Regions from separate parts of the Homo sapiens genome. Here region 1 is linked to region 2. The links come from fine-mapping of genetic effects on gene expression. A gene starts in region 2. The other region holds a variant in brackets. All regions are shown on one strand. Distances are between the middles of the regions. Region 1 overlaps PLEK (pleckstrin). Region 2 holds the start of CNRIP1 (cannabinoid receptor interacting protein 1).

Region 1 (2,913 bases), 73 kb after region 2:
TTATGAAGGAGGCACTGTTTGCTAAGACCACACATGTTTTATTGCTTTCAGCACAAGTAAAATGAAAAATGTTGGAAAATTTGTATACATGCTTGCCAATATGTGGTGCTTTAGAAATTACAAATAATATTTCTTGTATTGGCAAGATAGAAACTCCGTATCTTTTAATATAATACTATTTTTGGCTTCTGGAGTTAAGTCATTTGAATTTCCTGTGGGAAATCATAGAGTCAGGTTTACCATGACAGTTTAAAATCTGCTACACACTAATGGAAATAACTTGGTAACTCACAGCAAGTACAAACAGATATGAAGCAGCTGCTATATGCCAGGCACTGTGGCCCTGGGAAACAAAGATAAGCAAGACACAAATCCTGCCCTTAAAACTCAGTCTAGACAATGTCAGTGTTTAATTCTGTTGGGAAAGGCCAAGTCGTCACCTTCTTTCTTCTTCTTCTTTCTTTCTTCCTTCCTCTTTCCTTCCTCCTACCTTCCTCCCCCTTTTCTCCTCCTCCTCCTTCTTCTTCTTCTTCTTTCTCCTCCTCCTCCTCTTCCGCCTCTTCTTCTTCCTTCATCATGTCTGTTACAGCAACAGGCATTTCCATTCCTACTGCAGCTACCTAAGGTTTAGTTCCTAATGATTTTATGCCTGGATTATTGTGATCCTTCCCTAATGAATTCTTTTTTACTTACCATCTTTTCCTGGGCTTTCCTTTAATCTAGCCAGCTGGTCCATCCTGCACTTTGTCACCATATTAATCTTCTTAAAATGTAATTGTAATTCTTTCACTTCCTACTCAAAAGCCATCAACAACAAACCCTGCCTTTTATTTCCACTAAATCTCTGTCCACTTTTCCCACCTTGCCTCTGCTACTCTTCATGAACCCTACATTCTAGCCAGACTGGTCTTATTCATCAACACCTGAGTATGTCTCTTGCATTCCCACTTCTGCTCTTGTGTTGTCAGTTGTCCTCCTACCCACCTTTGTCTTGCCCATCTAAATCCTGTGTCCCACATGGATAAGTGCAGGTCTTTATGAGGCTTTCTTTGATATCCAAAGCCCACAATTACATATTCCCTACTTAATGCCTTTGGAATCCATTATCTATACCAATTATTTGATTTGGGCATTTGCTACTTTATATTTCAACATAGGTCATAAACTCTTTAAAGATCAGGGCATCTTAAACCTCTTTATTCCCCCTACATTACCTAACACAGCACATTGTACCTAGTACTGCCTTATATCATACTAAAACTGGAAGACAATAATTAGAAATAATTTAATCCACCTCTTCGATCTAATAACATCCATATTATTTATTGGCTGTAGCACTATCTCCCTGACAAAGACCTAGGCCGGGATATTGTTATCCTGGAGTTAGTATTTCATTTTCTCTTTCTTTTCTCAATTCAGCAAATAATTATTCTGTAGGTATTGTTTGTACAGAGTGATGCTGGGAATTCACCATCCCTTCTTTTAATGTTGATCCTGGATACAGGGGCATAGAAGGAAAAACTGGAAAGTGAGGAAGTTCATCTTGAGAGAAGACCCTGCCTACCTGCACTACTATGACCCTGCTGGGGTAAGGTCCTGTGGTTCATAAATCCATTCAAATAAATAAATCCACTGCATTTATAATCTGGGCTTCCTATTCCCCTCTCTACTCT[G/A]TTGATATCCCCTTTTTCTCTTTACTGGCCCACTTTTTTTTCTCCCATTCTCCTCTACCTTTTTCTATCCCCTTTCAATGCAAAGATCTGAGATCTTGGGCCTCTGAGGTCAGTATAAGCTTAGGGATGGAACAAAATATCACTATATTATAATTTATTTGGTCAACTCAACATATTTTTCCCCAATCTGATATTTTCAGGGGAATTAAATCAGTCCATGGTTTAATATGCATAAAGGTGATAATTCCTCATCCAGGTCAACTTGGATGAGGGTATTGTTTAAGTCCAGCAATTTGGGCTGTTGATTGTCGAAGAGGACTTTTTCCACCATAAAATGAACCACTTTTAAAGCATGAAGACAACTCTGGGTAGGGTGCTCACCCTCCGCTTGCAGCACTGGGCTATTTGACTTCCCCTGGGTGGTTATATTGCTGCATCAGGTGCATGGGACCAAAGAGCTCTGGAAACATGTAGCTCTTTTTTAGTGGGATACAGTGACCTCAGTGTCTCCACCTCTCCTGTCACTTTTCTCCAGATTGAAGTCCAGATCGTCTTGCATTTTCTCATTGAGCCTCCTGGCCCCACTGAAGCAGGGTGTGGAGGATCTGGAAGGACCTTAGATCTGTCAGCAGTTTTTCTTTAATCTCCTTCTGCTCTTACTTATTTTGGGGGGCCCTGATCTATATTAGAGTGAGTCTGGCTTTTTCACCAAGAGGATGAGGTCTATCTATACTCTGCATTTTGGAAACATAATGAACAACTCCTTTCTTCTTTAGGCAGAAGATCCCCTGGGAGCAATTCACTTGAGAGGCTGTGTGGTGACTTCAGTGGAGAGCAACTCAAATGGTAAGATGAATTTCTGTGTGAGAGAGGTGGGTCTGCTCAGACTCCCCTCCCACACCTGGACATCCTGGGCCAACATTAATCAATCAATCAATTAATCAGGATAAGCAGGAATGGGGCAGGCATGGTGGCTCCCACCTGTAATCCCGGCACTTTGGGAGGCCGAGGAGGGCAGATCACTTGTGATCAGGATTTCGAGACCAGCCTGGCTAACGTGGTGAAACCCCATCTCTACTAAAAATACAAAAATTAGCTGGGCATGGTGGCACATGCCTGTGAATTGTTTGAGCTTGGCAAGTTGCAATGAGCTGAGATTGTGCTACTGCACTCCAGCCTGGGTGACAGAGCAATACTCTGTCTCAAAAAAAAAAGCAGGAATGAATTTACTGTCTGAAAA
Region 2 (2,913 bases):
GGGGCGGCCGCTCTCTTACTAGTGTCTGCTGCTCCACCCCAGGGTCCCAGCCACTGAATGGCGAAGGGAGTGGGGAGCATCCCTCAGGGAGCCCCAGTAATCACCCCTCCCCTGCCTTTCCACCTCATTCCTCCTTTCTCCCTCCTTCAGCCTTGCGGGCAGACCCTGTGGGCCGCCTGGACCGCGCGCAGGAGGGCTGGGATTGCGGTGGCTGAACCCTGCGGACCTCTCCCATCTGCTCCACCCCGACCGCCTGCGGTTCCGCGCCCAAGGCTGGACAGAAGGCAGGAGAAATTTATAAGAAACAGACAAGCAAAAACCCTGGCTTCTTGTCACTGATTTTAAAGAACCCACTGAGGTCACTGCGATGGGTGGAGGGAAGCGAGAATGGAGGAATACAAGCCAAAGGGAAGGAAGGGGACGAAGGCGGACAGGGAGTGACCTCTTCCTCCAACCCCCGGGCCCGCTGGGAGCGGCGCGAGGCCAGAGGCCCTTGAGAGGCTCGGGCTGTCCTGGGGGCCTCAGTCCTCTGCCTGTACCCCATGGGGGACCCTGCTGCCACCAGGCGCCCCGCACTCACTCGACCTGCAGCGTGCTGGGTTTAATCTTCACCTCAACCTTGTAGGAGGAGCCGGTGAGCAGCTTGATGGTGCGGTTCTGGCCGAAGCGCTGCCCGTCCACCTTGTAAAAGACCGGGCCGTCATTAGGCTGGATGCGCAGCGCGATGGAGAGGCGCACGAGGCCCGGCAGGTCCCCCATGTCTGGGCGAGGGTCTGGCGCGGCGGCTCCGGGGGGCGGAGGACAGCGCCGGCTGCGGCCGAGTGGCTGGAGCGCGAGGGGCGGAGAGGAAGCGCGGGGAGGGTGAGGGAGGTGGTGGAGCTGAGGCTGCCGCTAGGAACCCGCGCCGTCGCCGCCGTCCGCCCGGGCTTTTGAGGAGCAGCTCCTTAGGCTGTGGCCCCCCTCCCCACTCGGCGAGGAAGCGGGCCCAAGAGACGGCTCCAAGGCCGCGCGCTTCCCCATCCCCCGCTCCAGTGCTGCGCCCTCCACGCACCCGAAGGCTCGCTCTGGCCCGCAGGCCGCCGCGCAGATCCGCGCAGCTGGGGGCGAGGGAGTTAATCCTGTTTACGCACCACAATCCCCTTCAGCTGGGGAAGCGGACATTTAGGCTCCTCCTAGAACAGCCCCGGGCAGGAGGAGGAGAGGTTTGGGAGGCACTGGGAAGGCGCTGGAGTTAAGCGACCACTATGCCAAGGAGCGAGACCCCCGGAATCTGGATACCGCCTCGGCCAGCTACGTGAGGTGGACACTGCTGCTCGCGGATCCGGCGCCAGCCAGGCGGGAGGAGGCTGAGGGGGGGTAAAGGGAGGCGGGAAGGGGGGACAGGAAACCGCTAGCCGGTGATTTAAATTTCAGGAAATATGAGTCTTTCCAAAGCTTAGGGGAAATGGCCGAGGAAAGGCGCAATTCCACGTGATGGAGCCACGCTGGATGAGGAATGGATGCAAGAGGAAGAAAATAACCATATTCAAGGAGCTACATCTTCTTGTGGGTGTACATTTCCATTATACGTATGCTCGTCCCAAAAATGACACATACATAAATATATGTAATGAATCACATATATTTACACAGATTTTGAAGGGTGAGCTATTAACCCTGTAAAAGGCAACTGACATGAGCCTAAGGCATTCTGGTGACAAAATGGCCAAGAGGTGGGATGGGTCAAAGGATTATTGGCAGGGGGCCATATGCGACACCGCAGAGTTTAGATTTGCATATTAAGCGTGATTAGACAGTTTTCGTGGCAGAGGTCGGTAGACAGCTGACTTTTGGAAGCGAGGGGAGACTCAGGGGGTGAGGACTATACTGGGAATGGCTTCCCGGAGCAGAGAGAGCACCTGCTTCAGCACCACCCAGATGGATAGTACCAGAGCCAGGGAGCACACCTGGGAAATGAAGTGGGCTAGTGAGAACAAATGGGTAGGGATGCGTTTCCTTGGCAGTTTTTGTTTACCCAAGTTAGACTGCTCTTTTTTAAGAAATAATAAGCTATACATATAATATATATGTAATATGGGTGTTTATTGCAACATTGGTTGCAAAAATAAAAATAAAACCTAAATGAAATGTTAACCAATAAATAAATGGCTGAATAAATTCTTATATACCCACACTATAGAACGTTACACAACTATCAAAATAATGAAATATAGGTTGCATTGGCAAACACACAGGCAAAAACTGTTAATGATAAAAGTGGGATGGCTGGGAAACAAAGCCTGAGGGCGAGCATTTTGTCTGTTTTGTTTGTTGCTGTTTCCCCAGCATGCCAAAATAGTGCCTGACACATAGTAGGTGCTCCAGAAATCGTTGTTGAATTGACTTACGGTTGTGGTCTTAATCATGTCCATATGTAAATTCTTTCACATCTTTAAAATTAATTAGATCCTTGCGATTTACCTGGAATGATGAAAAGAAATCTAATTGCAAGTAGCATCTCTAGTGTTTTAGAAAAATGAAAATTTAAAAAGAATATAAATGTGTATGTTTGTATTAGCTCTTTTAAAAGAATGAGAGAGTTACACAGTAAACTTAATGTTGGTTATTATGGTTTATGAGTAGTGGAAAGAGGGTGAGTATCTTTTTGGGGTCATTTAAAAGCCTTTTTGGAAATTTTGCCTTTTTTCCTCAACCTTTTGTTTAGCAACCCCACAATCTCAAGCCAACTTCCACCTGTGTATCAAAAAGAGCATTGGACCTGGAGGATGATGACTCCATTTTAAAACCTGGTTCTAAGGCCGGCATGGTGGCTCATGCCTGGAATCCCAGCACTTTGGGAGACCAAGGAGGGCAGATCATTTGAGGCCAGGAGTTCAAGACCAGCCTCGCCAAAATGGCAAAACCTGTCTCTAC

Evidence for each region. PIP is the estimated chance that this variant, and not a neighbour inherited with it, causes the effect.
Region 1: its variant is the best candidate, but not a certain one, in a credible set for the expression of CNRIP1 in visceral fat (GTEx, PIP 0.57).

The regions. Positions count from the first base shown.
Region 1 is chr2:68,391,658-68,394,570 of GRCh38, forward strand. PLEK (pleckstrin) reads left to right here. Exons shown (of 9, transcript NM_002664.3): 7 at 1,505-1,588; 8 at 2,450-2,519. Among named protein-coding and RNA genes, the nearest start is that of PLEK, 28 kb to the left of the region's middle. The variant G/A (reference allele first, on the strand shown) is at 1,674.
Region 2 is chr2:68,318,642-68,321,554 of GRCh38, forward strand. CNRIP1 (cannabinoid receptor interacting protein 1) reads right to left here and starts at 1,308. Exons shown (of 3, transcript NM_015463.3): 1 at 581-1,308. The coding sequence starts at 759.